4 linked regions of the Homo sapiens genome follow. The protein of the gene in region 2 interacts with the protein of the main gene of each other region in a pairwise test. Each region holds a gene or a part of one and is shown on either strand. Other genes may lie near its edges.

Region 1 (3,661 bases), on a different chromosome or scaffold from region 2:
AGCACCCCTTACCCGGAAGATGTCTCCATAACAGCTGAAGCCATCACCCCCAAAGCCAGGGGGGCACGTGCAGACCCGCTGACCTCCCCCCACTGCCCGGCAGGTGGCCTGGGGTGGGAGTGAGAAAGGGCCTCCATTCAGAACCAGATGGCAGCTGGGCCCCTCCCTCCCCCATCTTTCTGCCTGTCCAGCCACCCAGCCCCAGCCCCTGCCCCTTGCTCTGCAGCCACCCAGTCTGTGTTGGTGGCACTCCTTCGGTGTGCCTAGCCCTGCTCTCCAGGACACTGGGCATTTGACACAAGCATTACCCATGCCAGGTGGATGCGAGGGAGCTCAGGGCTGTGGGAGGACCCAGGAGGCCCGTATCCCCAGGAGCCAGAGCTGAGAGCAGGAGGAGCTAGCCAGGCCCAGGTGCAGCTTGCAGAAGCAGGAGTGTGGTACAGTGGAGCAAGGGCAGGGGATGGTGAGGAGCTCAGCGTAGCCAAGGACAGTGGAAGTGGGGCAGGAGTGGAACAGAGAGACGAGGCTGGGCAGGGGCGGGTGAAGGGGGAGAGGAGTGACATGGTTGGATTTGAAGTTTAGAAAGATCTTAATCCTGAGGGGGTACAGAGAGACACCCAGAGATGGGGAGGGAGGGAGAGAGCTGCAGCCCAGGCTCACCCCAGAAAGCTTCCCCAGGGCTCTGAGCCTTGCACCCCCTTACCAGGCCGTGGCAGCCGCCATTGCCTGCCCGGCAGGGGTCGATGGGGCTGCACTGGTAGCCATCCCCGGCAAAGCCCAGCTTGCAGGTGCATCGGCTCTGGAAAGGTTAGGAACAGACGGCCTTGTCTCATGATGAGCATCCAACCCTTTCTTCCTCCATTACTTGGCTCTCTCTGGTCACTGCCCCCAGGGAGGTCTGCCCAGACCCCAGAGGAACTTCTCCCAGCCCTCCTCTCAGAGATCTGTGCTCCAGATGGGGAGACAGAGGCCCTAAGGGGAGACTGGCTCTCAGGATGAGTCCACGGAGGTGAGAGCATTTGCAGAGAAGCATCCGTGGAGACTTGGTGCTCCTGCACTTGGAGCCTGGGGCCCTGCCAGGGCCATTGAGGCCAACAGCTTGTGGCAAGTGTGTAGGTACCTGCCAAGGCCAGCCCCAGGATAGTGGCTTAGATCCCACCTCCACCCCTGCCACCCTACTCAGCTGCTCTAATCCCCCAACCAAATGCCAGTGTCCCTGGGCTTGTCTACACTGCAGGTGAGTGACCAGCGAGACCCCTCAGCTCTCAGGTGCCCTTGTTTGCACGTTGGGAGCATCTCACTGGCTCATTCAACACCTCTGTTCTGAATTAAGGCCCTAATGGGGTTTGGAGCTCCAGCTCTTACACCTGTCAGTTCTTACTGCTAAGGCCCCACGTGCTGGTGCCCAGAGGCCACCTTGGAGTTGGGAGGACAGGGAGCCCCACAGGCCTGGCCATGCAGAGGCTGACCCTGACCAGCCAGGCCTGGCCTCCCACTTGGCGCGTTAGACAGTCTTCAATGCCTGTCCAAACACTGGTTCACCAGTCCTGAAATGCTCCACATGGAAGGCTCCAGGTTCCGAGCTCCCGTGACTAGATTCAGACACTGCAAAGCTCCGGGGCTGGATTTCCATGAGGCTAAAGTTTTGGGGAGGTCACTCCCACGGGCAGGGGCTTTTCCTGCTTTGCTCAGTATCACATTCCCTACATCTAGAACACGGACTAGCATGGAATAGGTGCCTGAAAACACCTGGGAAAGCAATGAGCCAATGGATGAAGGAGCGAATCCCAGATGCTACTACTCAGCATGTCAGCACTGGGTTCTCATCTGCACCTGAGGCTCCAGACCCTGAGCACCTGACTCTGCATTCCAGGAGTCAGATGGGGCAGGGAGAGAGTCCCCCAGAACCAAGGCCCCCACCCCTTCTCTGCTGCACCTCACCTGCCCGGGGCCCACATAGCTGCAGAGGGCATCGGTGTGGCAGCCACCTCTCATGTCCAGCTCACACTCGTCAATAGCCACACAGACGCGGCCATCCCCACTCCAGCCTTTGTGGCATGTGCAGTGGTGGGTGCCCAGGGACCCAGGGACACACTCAGCCTGTGAGAGCCATGGATAAATAACTGAGGGACACAAGAACGTAGGCAGAGGGCCAGGGCATCCCACCTCCTGCCTCTGGGTCAGAACTTCAGGGAAGGAGCAAGGGGACTGACATTCTCTGAGCAGCCTCCACGGTCCGGGTGGGAGCAGGGGTTGCTAGGTGTGCAGGAGAAGCCATCACCCTCAAAGCCATCAAGACAGCGACATCTGGGGGTGGGTGAAGGAGGGGGCTCCAGTGAGCCTCAGGTATGAAAGGTCACGGGTGGGGCAGACAGAAGGTGTGGGTCCTCACCTGGCAACACCCTCCTGGCTAACACAGCGGGCATGCAGGTGGCAGTGCTGGGCCAGCCCTGTGGGCCCACAGTCCCCCATGGACTCGTTGCAGAACCGGCCACTGAAGCCAGGGGCACACGTGCCCTGCTGGCACACCCCCCCACTGCCTGGGCGGTTGTCGCAGAGACCATGGACACAGCCGCAGTCTGTATGGAGTAGATGGGAGCAAGGAAACTGAGAAGCAGGAGGCAGGGCTGGCTGGGAGCCAGGATGGGTTTGGGGGATATAGGGAGTGGGGCAGCCAGTACAGATTTGACTTCAGGGTGGAAAAATCAGAGGTTATCTCAGACTCAATGGGCAGGCAGATGAAATGTGAGGGGGGCATTCTGAGCTTTCAATTATCCCATTCTAGTTGCCCTGATCCCAACACCACCATCAGGAAGTTCTTCAGTGTGTCTGACCTAAGTCCCGCATACTTTAAGCCACAGTTCCCTTCCTGGCCTGGGTGAAGCAGACAGCATCTCCTTTCTGTTCTCAAATCTTCCTCCACTCCCCTTGGCCTTCGTCCCTCCTCCTGGGGCTTCGTTTCCCTTCTTGAGAGCCCCCAGACCCATTTTTAGGCAAATCTTCCTCCACTCCCCTTGGCCTTCGTCCCTCCTCCTGGGGCTTCGTTTCCCTTCTTGAGAGCCCCCAGACCCATCTTTAGGCAGACGTTTTTTCTCCCTAGGAGGTGGCCTGAGCCAGGACCACCCACCTTCCTGGCATTGCTCTCCATGCTTGTTTGGGTTCGAGCAGATGTGGCAGGCGATGCCCTTGTAGTCTGGGAAGCAGAGGCAGGCCCCATTGCCCTGGATCCCATCACTGCACTAGAGAGTGAGCAGAAGGCAGGATCAGTCATGGGAAAGGGACTCTCTACATCCCCTCTCCCAACACCCCCTCCTTTCATGGGCTGGCTCTGAGCTCTTGCTACCCGTGAGAGCTCATCCTGGAAGGGATCTTCAAAATCACTGATGCCGCCAAAGACCTAGCCCCTAAAAGGCACCTGGCCCTGGAGGCTTTATGAGCAACATTTGCTGGATGCAGAAACACATAACTCCTGTGTTCTTCTATAGCCAGGTGCTAAAGTAACCGTGATATTACAAAGTGGTAAAAACAGAACACAAAAGAAAACCACCAAGTAGCCTTTTTGGAAATAAATGCCAAAAAATCTATCTATCTATCTATTATTATTATTATTATTATTATTGTTATTTTGGGATGGAATCTCACTCTGTTGCCCAGGCTGGAG
Region 2 (3,661 bases):
GACCTTTTTTGTTTTAATTGTAGGGATGGGAAAGGAAAGAGACAAGAATTTCTGTTTTCCCTTTTAGAAATCTTCAATTAATTAAGATCTTATCTCCATTTAACAGAAAATAGTAATATATCTGAGGCTGGAAAACAGTCACTTTCAAAGTAACAGATTCTATGTCTCTTAGCACATTTTCTTCACTTTGTTCTTTTTCTGTTTTTGCCCTGAAAAGTATTACTTAGTTTCAGTGTGTGTTTGCGACAGAACACAGAAGGCAATCATTTAAAATTATGCTCACATTTAGTATGTTTTTGAAAGTTTCAGATTTCAGGGCTCCTCTGATTTACATGTAGATTTCAGACATCTTCTCAGCTGGGAAAAAACAAAACAGTTTTTCCAGTTCAAGCTTATCACTAACATTCCTCTAGAAGTTGGATGTCTTGGGATCCCTGGCTTCTGAGGGAAATGATAACACAAGAGACTTACAGAGAGGAGAGGGTCAGGAAAACGCACCTGAGTGAGATGGACTTAGGAGCAGATAATCCTCCTCGGTCTTTCCTGGAAAGTAACTTGCAGTTACCACTCTTTAGCACTCGAATCCTGTGGGAATCTGTGCTGACAGCCATTTCAAAGTAGATTATAAAGTACAAGAAGGAAAAATTTAGGGAAAATATTTATGGGAAAATAAAATGTAAAGAGAGAAATATATATTTAAATGTGGTATTTTTTAAAGTTCTTCGAGTTTCACTGTGGAATGATTTTATTTAGGGTGAGGTTACAGCTTTTTAAAAAATAATATTCATAAATGTGTAGTATGGTTTAAGTCTTATACTACTATTGGTAATAATAGAGAAAAGGATCCTTAAACATTAGAGAAAAATAGCACAATGTTCTTAGTTTTCTCTATATATAGAACATGGAAGAATAAAGATATTCATTTTCTTTTTTTTCTTCAGATAGTGTTGTTTGTGTTTGTTTCAAAGTTTGTAAGTGGCATATTTCTTGAAAGTTTATTAAATCACCTGAAAAATATTCTTTTCAGGGATCTTTTCTGGAAAGATGCTTTATGAATTGATATTTCTGTATTTTTCAGAGGCTAGTTCTATAGGTAGCTTAAGATAGGAGAAAATGAAGTACTACTTTGATATTCATTTAGGTTTGTTTTCTCTAACAAACCTTATGATACTGCCTTTTTAACTGTTATTCATAAATTATTAAACATATTTTAGTGTTTCAACCAAAGAGAAAATCAATACAGTTGCCCCTTGGTATACTTGGGGGATTGGTTCCAGGACCAGTCCCATATATATCAAAATCCTAGCACACTCAAACCCTGCGATCAACTCCGCAGAACCTGAGTGTAAAAAAGTTAGCCCTCCATATACATGGGTTTTGTATTCCCTGAGTACTGTTTTTGATCTGTGTTTGTGATCTGTGTTTGGTTGGAAAAAAAAAAAAATCTGTAGACAAGTGGACCCTCACAGTTCAAACCTATGTCGTTCAAGGGTCAGTTGTTTATTTTGATTAGCCAAATTGTGTACCAGTTGCTGTTAACATTATGACACTTTAGTGTTATTACACCATGCTTAGATCTGAAAATCTAAAATTAAGGTAAGAAAGTTTGGCTAAAGCGAATAATTTCTTTTTGATTCTTCTTCTCTACACTTAGTAGAATTTGGAAGATTTTTCTATTTTAAATCATTGTTTTTTATGAAGTAGAATAGGAAGAAATTATTTTAATGATTTGGTTCTTAGTTTTCTGTTATCTAGTTATATGTTATATAGTTACACATTTATATATATCTTTTTCTGTGCCTTATTGAATTATTTTGATATGAAATACTTGGGAACAAACTAATATATATATATTTTTTTTAAATAAATGGAATTAGTATGTTTTTAACCAGTTTGCTTAAACTGCTGTTCAGTAGAATTCCAGTGTTGATTCATGGAAAACTACTAAGTAGTTATAATTAGTTAATTAGTACTCCTCAAACTTTAGAATACATAGAGTTTCTAGAGAGATCGTTAAACATAGATTCCTGGGTCTCATCCTCAGAGATTCTGATTTGGTATGCCTGAGATGGTGCCAAGAACTTGCATTTATAACAATCGCAGGTAGTGCTGCCAATCCAAATACTTTGAGTCATACGAAACTCAATGATGTTTAGTTTATGAGAATGTTCAGACCTTAGAAAACAACAGTTAATTATTTGTGCTTGAGGTTTTTCATTATATGTTTTATGGTTCTATGTGACATAAATATAACCTAAAAGAACAAATTATGCTTTGTTACTGTAGGGAAGTTCACATTTTTACCCTGCAGTTTTGATAATTTGAATCTATAAAACAAACTAATAATAGATTAACGGGAAAAAAAAGGCATACAAATTTATTTTTTAATTTTAATTTAATTTTAAATTTAATTTTATATTAAGTTCCAGGATACATGTGCAGGGGCGTGCAGGTTTGTTACATAGGTAAAATGCGTGCCATGGTGGTTTGCTGCATCTATCAACCCCTCACCTAGGTATTAAGCCCTGCATGCATTAGCTATTGCATACAAATTTATTAATATGCATATGGGCACAGGAGCCTTACACAAAATATGAGACTCAAAAGGTGGGGGGCAGAAAGGGGGGCCAGCTGGTTCAAATTTTTATGACATCCTGAGGTTACAGAAAGAAAATGGGCTTGGAGCATGGCATAACAGGTTATTGGAGGGAGAGGAGCAAAGACTTGGTTAGGGAAGGCAGTCTTGTGCAAATGAAACCTCATAGGCAGCAACTTTCAGAAAGAATAGATGGTAGCCTGTGCTAAGTTTCTCTGTCACACCTTCAAAGGTGTCAGACCCTCAAGTCTCTTTCTTGAGAGTTAATCTTTCCTAGATCCAAGGTGGGGGGTGATCAGAGAAAGCCTGTTTGCATCTGCTGTTTTCTTATTTCCTCTACAGATGCAAATCTCCCTCACAAAATACAGCTTTTCAGGGCTGTTCTTGTGCTTGCAGCCCTTCTGATTAGCCATATCAAAATATACCAAAGAAGTATATTTTTGGTGAGATGCTCCATTCTCCTAATTTTGTATACAGAGGCTAATGTATTAGGCAGAATTTAGCCAATTAAGGAATATTTTATGTTGTGCTGTCATTATTAGTATTTTTGCTGTTTTGTTATTATAGTAATAAGCTACAATTACATTTTTTTTTAGAAAGAAGCAGGGTCTTGCCATGTTGTCCAGGCTGGAGTGCAGTGGCTGTTCACAGGTGCAGTCACAGCACACTACAGGCTTGATCTCCTGGGCTCAAGCAATCCCCCTGCCTCAGCCTCCTGAGTAGCTGGGATTACAGGCACATGCCACTGCGTATAATTACATTTGACTTGAGCAAATGTGTTAAGTAAAATTTCCTGAACTGCAATACAGATTTTACTTGAAAAATAAATTTCTAATTGTGATCGATCAGTGCTTTTTTTCTTCTCTTTTTTTTTCTTTACTTACAGGCAGTACTTAATTTTCCTAAATATTGTGAACCCGTGGTTAAAGGAGAAGGTAACTGTGTAATTTTACTCATTAATATTTATTTTGAGAAAGGTTTTTACAAGATATAAATTACTGAAATTTTCTTCCCTTTGGGGTAGCAAGTGAACGTGATACTCGCAAACTGTGGAGAAATATTGAA
Region 3 (3,661 bases), about 16 Mb from region 2:
GCCAGTAAAACTACTTTGGTTTTTAGTCTTCAGTGAGAAAAGACAAGTACTAATTTGTAGTTACAATGGAACTGAAAAGAATGAGCTGTGTCAGAAAACGAAGACACAGATCAGGCGCAGTGGCTCATGCCTGTAATCCCAGCACTCTGGGAGGCCGAGGTGGGCGGATCACCCGAGGTCAGGAGTTTGAGACCAGCTTGGCCAACATGGTGAAACCCTATCTCTACTAAAAATACAAAAAATCGGCTGGGCCTGGTGGCACATGCCTGTAGTCCCAGATACTTGGGAGGCTGAGGCAGAAGAATCACTTGAACCCAGGAGGTGGAGGGTGCAGTGAGCAGAGATGGCACCACTGTACTCAAGCCTGGGCAACAGAGCAAGACTTCGTCTCAAAAAAAAAAAAAAAAAAAAAAAGGGATACAGAGAGAGAGACAACAGTAACATTTTGGAAAACACATTTCCCTCTATTACTTTGTCTTCATGCAATTATCACTAAATAAGGCAGAGCTTATAGAATAATAAATGAATGAAATATAAGTTAACATAAAAGAATCCAGAAAGTAGATTAAACACATGAACCACATTAAATGCTGTGAAGTACTAAAAAAGCCAAGATTCGTAATTGAAGAACACATTTGGGAATGACCAAAACAAATGATCTCAATTACCCAGTGCTCATAACAGAGTATACAGAAGTTATTCTCATTCTTAAGAGCAGTCAAAACCACTGGGCGCAGTGGCTTACGCCTGTAGTCCTAGCACTTTGGGGAGCCAAGGAGGGCGGATCACCTGAGGTCAGGAGTTCGAGACCTCCTGGCCAACACGGTGAAATCCCGTCTCTACTAAAAGTACAATTAGCCAGGCGTGGTGGCGCATGCCTGTAGTCCCAACTACCAGAGAGGCTGAGGCAGTAGAATCTCTGGAACTCGGGAGATGGAGGTTACAGTGAGCTGAGATTGCACCACTGCACTCCAGCCTGGGTGACAGAGCGAGACTCCATCTCAAATAAAAACAAAAAACAAAACAAAAAGAGTGGTCAAAACCAAAAGTAAACAAGTTCACAACAAAGTGAGATAAAATTCACAGGAAACAAAGTTCCTTGTGAATAGGTGGAATCTCCAGCCTAACTTTATTATTTGTCTGTCAGCTGATCAGGGAGGGAATTGTACTTAGAAGCTTCCTCTAGATGACCATTAAAGAACCTAATTTCTATTTCCCTAGTTTCATGCAATTTTACATTTTGATGATTTTATTACATTTCTAAAAACTAGCATCCTGTAATATACATGTATTCCTTCATTACTTGCAAACTTTACCATATACAAATTATATATGCCCAGTAATAAAAATAAGAATTATCAAAATTTAAAAGGAAGCATCAAATCTTGTAAGCTCAGATTCACTCTGTTAATGTTCTGGGAAGGAAAAATTTCCAACTTTTATTTAGTTCCCCTCTAATTTCCATTAAGTTCTTCTTACTCATCCTTATAAGTCTTAATTTAAAGCGTCACCTGTGTTCAGTTGGGCCTTTTGAGACCCTCATTCTAGGTTAAATAACCTCATTATTTATTCCCATTGCACTTCATACTTTACTTTTGTGAAACTCATCACACTTGCAAATACATATTTTCTATCTATCTACACTGCCAGACCATAAGGTGCATAAGGGTAGGGATGTCCGCCTTATCTGTTGCTTTCTCCCCAGTACTCAAAAATATGTGTTAATTAATCCCTTGATACAAGTGGAATTGAATCATTATGAAACCTAACATTCAAAAAAAAAATGTCTTTACTCTTAGCAACTAAGAAACATATAAATGAAAACTGTAAAAACATGACCTTAAATTTCAATCCCAACCTCTAATCTCAACATCTGCTTTCACTAATTTTCTTCTTTGTGGCAACCACTGAACAATTTTTTCATTTTTTAGCCTCGACATTTTCTGAGAACCAAATTAAGCATCCATTCCAGATTATTTTGTTGCTACACCAGCAAAGTAAAACTTCAGGACCAATCTGTAATTTTAATTTTCAAAATTATTTTCAGGAAGGGGAAATATTTCTGAGATACTTTAGCTTCTGATTAAAAGCAATTTTAGACTAATCATAGTTTTCTTGTTTATTACATAAAAACAAAAAAACTGACACAAAACACTAATATATTTTGGTTTATAAAACAAACTTCAATTCAGAGTCTGAAGACAGATATGTTCCAGTATTATTCTTTCCCCTTAACTTTCCCACCATCTTCTACCAAAACCGAACCAAACACCAAAACAAACCTATCTATTACGTAAAAAATTATTCAAATAACAGCTAACAATAAGCACTTACTATGTGCCAAACACTGTCCAAGCTCACACAGCCAGGGAGCCAGGATTCAAACCTGGCAGCCTGAATCCATAGCTCTTGCTCATCAGTTTACAAACTATAATAGTTCCCCCATTTTCATCCTATATACCCTTTGCAACTCTCCCATTTCTTTCTGCTACCTCAATGGTCTTTACTTCTTTCAACTCTTCTCTTCCCATTATAAATAATAAGCCCACTTTTTAATTGCTAAGGTTCAAAATACTATAGTAACCCTTGACTACCATTTTCCCTCACTTGCAACATCCAATCCATTGGCAAATCCTCTTGGTCCCACCTTTAAAACAAATCCACAATCTGACCATGTTTCAGCACTTCTACTACCACTTAGTCTGGACTATCAATATCTATTCCTTGGTCCCATCAATCATTTTAAATTGGGACCTTTGCACTTACTTATCTCAATATCCAGGTCTCATTACTTCATTTCTCTCAGGTCTCTACTCAAATGTCACCTTATCAGTTATGTGTTCCTTGTCTAGGCTAAATAGCAACATCCCCATTCCTATGTTCTATTTTTTCATAGCACTGATCTAATATTCTCTCTCTATATTTTTATTCTTCTTTTATCCTGTGGTTACCTATCTCCACCCCTATCCCACCCCTACCCTACAGAATATAATCTTCACAACGGTAAAAAATTAAGTCTGTTTTGTTCAATGCTGTTTGCCCAGAGTAGTGATCAGTATGTAGTAGACGCTCAGTATTTGCTGAATAAAAATTCATTTTCAATACTCATTTCCTCCCTTGAGTTCTTAAAATGTAAAATATCTGCATCAGAATAACAAGCTAAAATTTAAAACACAAGTATTACAGTTTTCGAAACAAGCCCCCAAAATATAAAATCACATTTACAGTTTCTAGATCTTCATATTTCTGCAAGCAACATTCACAATATCCTTTTTTCTTCTTCTCTTTCAACTGGAGTTGAATTGAGGTTCCACCATACTTATCGCCATCTGTTTGGATTCTGATGACAGACATACATGGTAAAGAATTAACTGCTGAACCTAAGGAATAACTTTAAAAATTTATTGTCCTAAACTATCACACACAATCTGCATAATTTGCAGAGACTTGTATCAGCAAGTACTTTTAATCATATTTCTTTATACTATATTGAGAAGCAAACTAAAGATTTAATGAATATTCTGGAGAATATTTCAGATCATTCAAGATAAACTACACATTTTCATTATTCACAAATATTTTAAGGCCCTCCCCACCTCCATCTAAACAGATTCAGACTTATAAAAGTAATCAGAATAGTAATTACAAACACAAATAACCA
Region 4 (4,194 bases), on a different chromosome or scaffold from region 2:
AACAAAGATAAAGAGTTGTGAGAAAGGTTGGATATCATAGAACCCCCAGAGGTTAGGAATTCCTTGAGTGGTAGTTCTAAACATTGTATGTAATTTTCACCTTCAGAGTTTAAGACACAGACAAAAAGAATCAGAATACATTACGTAGATTGGAGTGTCCATCTCTTTTAAAAGTTCCCTAGGTAGTTCCAGTTCTTAGGAAGGGTGGAAAACTTCTACGATAGGATGTTTGTATGAGAGGATGGTAGTGGTGGTGATGGTGTTGAGTAGGTTGGTAGGAGAAAGGCCAGATAGATCAGCAATATCTGCTCTGAATGTGAACAGGTGGAATGGTAAAAATATCATTATTAATTGCTATCTTAGGGATGGAAAATGAATAACTTGTCCAAGGTAGTTGGATACCATCTTGAAGAGCTGGCAGAGTGCTGACGCTACCTTCCATTAAGAATAAACATTCATGAATTTTCTATCTCAGATGCTCTTTTGACTTAAACGCCTTATGGTCTTTTCTTATAATTAAAGGCATTAAATTCATATGTGAAGAATGCATTCATGACAGCATATTTAAATAATGATCTAAACGACTTTCCCCAATACTTTACAATAGACATAAGTATTTTTGAAACAGCTTTAACACAATCGCTGCCTATAAATAGGCGCAGAGAAGAGTTTGATAACTTTTTTAAAGTAGCAGTATTTTAAAATAGAGTACACACAACCCAAATTCGCATGTGTAAATAAATAGAATGCATGAAAAGAATCTGAATGTGAATCACTTCCCTTAGTTATTTATCCATTGTTTTGATGCTGTCCTAAGACCCATTTAAAATAAGGCATCTTTCTGGTGGGTAACAAATTCGTAGTCTATCAAGCTGGGATCCCACTAACATTGGCCAAACTGCTGCAGACATGAAGACTTCATCTGGGAACCCGAAAGGAGAACTCAAAATCCAAATCTTCAGACTTTCTTAGGAGAAGCGTGGAAGTGGGAAAAGGAGAAATTCAAACTCTGCTTAATTTCAAAAGGGCAGTAAAAGGGGAGGCTGCAAAGGCTAGTTTACAAAAATAGACGTCGAGAACTCCTAGGGAAGCAAGTAGAAACGGGCTTTTTTTGGGGGAGGAGACATTTGCAGCCCATTGGACGGATTCCCCGCCGCCCTCCTCCCAGAAGGTCCCCACTCCCCGCCCCGGGCCCTCCCCCGGCTTCCGCGCTGGGCCGGGAGCCTGGGTGGGCGGGGTAGCCTCTCTAGCCTTGCCTTCTTGGCTGGAGGCACAAAGGCATTAACTTAGCGCCCGGGGTCTCTGCCAGGCTCACGGGACAGCTGCACCTCTCAGCGTCTCCAGCTCCAGGACGCGGTCGTCCCAACTCCTTCCGAGTGGAAAGAGTGTAAAACTTTTGTCCGTGCGCGGGTGGAGCTCAGTAGGACCACGGCGCGTCCTGCCCCGGCTTCCCCAGCCTCCCAGCAGGGTTAGCTGCGGTCAGCGCACTTTCCACTTGGGACTCCCGGCCAGAAATTTCTCGGGAATGGAGCGGTCACAGTGTGGCAGCAGAGACCGAGGCGTTAGCGGCCGACCTCACTTGGCCCCTGGGCTAGTGGTGGCTGCCCCTCCGCCCCCGTCCCCGGCGTTGCCGGTACCATCGGGGATGCAGGTTCCCCCAGCGTTCCTGCGGCCGCCCAGCCTCTTTCTGCGAGCAGCGGCCGCGGCCGCCGCCGCCGCTGCCGCCACCTCGGGAAGCGGAGGCTGCCCGCCGGCTCCCGGGCTGGAGAGCGGGGTAGGCGCGGTGGGCTGCGGCTACCCGCGGACGCCCAAGTGCGCCCGCTGTCGTAACCATGGTGTGGTGTCAGCGCTCAAGGGCCACAAGCGCTTCTGCCGCTGGCGGGACTGCGCGTGTGCCAAGTGCACCCTGATCGCCGAGCGCCAGCGCGTCATGGCCGCCCAGGTGGCGCTGCGCAGGCAGCAGGCGCAGGAGGAGAGCGAAGCCCGGGGGCTACAGAGGCTCCTGTGCTCGGGGCTCTCCTGGCCCCCCGGTGGTCGGGCATCCGGGGGCGGCGGCAGAGCCGAGAATCCACAGTCCACGGGCGGCCCTGCGGCGGGGGCTGCGCTGGGACTGGGTGCCTTGAGACAGGCCAGTGGTTCCGCGACCCCCGCTTTCGAAGTTTTCCAGCAAGATTATCCTGAGGAAAAACAAGGTGAGTTGGTCTTTGATTTACTCTTTGCTCAAGGAATGGTTGTTCTGGAAAGAAACTCTGAAACAAGCCACCGTGTCCATAGGCGGGCAGGAATAGTTGTTTAAAAGAAACACTTTAAGTTTTGGGGAACTGCTCAGCAATATGGACATTAATGAGAGTGTGAGAGACCCCATCGCCTTCACTTTGGAGGAATTTACTGTTGTTCCCTCAGGTGATAGGATGAGATAATGAAAAAATGAAGCATGGGTGGTAACAAATGAGCAATTCACCCTAGGAGTAGAGTTATTTACTCGGAAGTTGATTTGACTTTCACTGTGTGAGTAGAACTTCAAGCAGGCATTGAGCGAAAAGCTTCGTAAGAGGTGCTGTGTTTGAGTCTGCTCTGTACTCTTTCCAGACAGGATCTCACTCTGTTGCCCAGGCTGGAGTGCAGTGGCGCCATTACAGCTCACTGCAGCCTCAACCTCCCCAGGCTCAGGTGATCCTCCCTGCTCTGGACTGTTTTCAGCTGTAAAACCAGAGCTGATTTTGCGTGGGAAACTCTGATAGTTGGGGATGCAGTTCTTTACTACATGTTGGGGCAAACATTTGTTGCAAGCTTGATGTGGGGAAGAGACTGAAATCTACCAAACCATCGTCTTTCTTTGTTTCTTCACTCTAAATTGTTTTCGCAAAATGTAATTTGTAAAACCATAGGTAAGAATTTCAAAGTTCAATATTAGAGGTTTTTTATCCAAGGAGTTTTCATTATTTTTCTCTTATTTTTTGACTGCGAGTCAGTTGCCTTCATTTCCTGCGTTAGGAGATATATTTTAGTGAACTTCATAGCCCTCCACAGGGCCTACTAAGCAGTGAAAATATCATTGTGATTTTTTTTTTGTATAAGTCAAAAACTTATACAAAACTTATAAAGCTGTATTATATGAAATTGTATGATAGCTATACAGTAAACTATTAATTAGAAACCTTCCTTGAATTATGAAAATTGCAGATCTCAACAGATTTTTTCGCTCAATGGCTGCTTGAAGTTCTACTCACACAGTACATTCGAAAAATTCTGTGAATTGAAATGAGGCATTCAGTTCAGAGTGAATTTTGTGTTTGCATGTGTCAACTTTTGCACATATTCTAATTTATTTGAGTAGGCAAAACAGACTTTCTACAATTCCCATGAAAGATGAAGGTGCTAAAGAGCACAGTTATTAAGTAAAAGTGCTATGAAAGAGAAGTAAAAGTGAGAATTCCTGAAACTACACCGATAGTGAAATGGCTGACATCTCCCTGTGAGACACTGATTTATGTGATTTCTAGTTGGTACCAAAGTGTTCTGTTTTATAGAGCTAATTATTTTACTTTGTTCTTTGCCTCAGATGATGCCCCCTCCCCCATAAGAAGCAAGCTAATGTTTGAAAGGTTACTTCAATAGCTTTCTAAATTGACTGGTTCTCTTACACAATAGCCATGAACTGTGGTAAAATAGTCTATTTAATTTACTCATTCATTAGACAAAGACTAACAGTGATTTAGAAGTGAACAAGTTTTTCCTACACAGAAGAACCTTATATTCAAAAGAAGGCAGACTATATGTATCCAAAAACTACAATGCAAGGCTTAATATACAATGATAAATGCAATAGAAGTAAAGCAAGCTGTAGGACTTGAGAAGACAGAGAGACGATATAAGTGGTATTATATTTTAAAGACACCATATTTTCTAAATAATCTTATGCAAATTGGTATTTCATTACATATATTGTACTGTGAGTAAAATATAACAAGACATTATTTTATGATTTCATGCATAAATTGCTATAGAGATGAAATGTTGATAATTGACATGTTCGGGGGCATGCTCATTCATATTTACAAGTAAAGTGGAATGGAGGACTAATGCTAATCTATTTCCACTTGGCAAATTTCATTAGAAAAGTATTATTGTGTTATTTAAAGTTGAAAATCCTATAGAGTGTTTGCAATTTTTGCAGTAGTGACATTCTTTTTT

Evidence for each region.
Region 1: the proteins of ORC5 (region 2) and STAB1 interact in a two-hybrid assay, tested with the Homo sapiens proteins (one large-scale study listed by BioGRID and IntAct).
Region 3: the proteins of ORC5 (region 2) and DBF4 interact in a two-hybrid assay, tested with the Homo sapiens proteins (one large-scale study listed by BioGRID).
Region 4: the proteins of ORC5 (region 2) and DMRTA1 interact in a two-hybrid assay, tested with the Homo sapiens proteins (one large-scale study listed by BioGRID and IntAct).

The regions. Positions count from the first base shown.
Region 1 is NC_000003.12:52,508,788-52,512,448, reverse strand, and holds part of STAB1 (stabilin-1 precursor), read right to left. Parts: intron 3,240-3,661; coding exon 3,128-3,239; intron 2,580-3,127; coding exon 2,393-2,579; intron 2,308-2,392; coding exon 2,214-2,307; intron 2,101-2,213; coding exon 1,942-2,100; intron 800-1,941; coding exon 704-799; intron 109-703; coding exon 13-108; intron 1-12.
Region 2 is NC_000007.14:104,183,993-104,187,653, reverse strand, and holds part of ORC5 (origin recognition complex subunit 5), read left to right. Parts: exon of another isoform or gene 1-3,441; intron 3,442-3,482; coding exon 3,483-3,531; intron 3,532-3,620; coding exon 3,621-3,661. UniProt on the Homo sapiens protein: Component of the origin recognition complex (ORC) that binds origins of replication. DNA-binding is ATP-dependent. The specific DNA sequences that define origins of replication have not been identified yet.
Region 3 is NC_000007.14:87,900,443-87,904,103, reverse strand, and holds part of DBF4 (protein DBF4 homolog A), read right to left. Parts: intron 3,341-3,661; coding exon 3,226-3,340; intron 1-3,225. UniProt on the Homo sapiens protein: Regulatory subunit for CDC7 which activates its kinase activity thereby playing a central role in DNA replication and cell proliferation. Required for progression of S phase.
Region 4 is NC_000009.12:22,445,541-22,449,734, forward strand, and holds the start of DMRTA1 (doublesex- and mab-3-related transcription factor A1), read left to right. Parts: upstream 1-1,283; 5' UTR 1,284-1,525; coding exon 1,526-2,192; intron 2,193-4,194.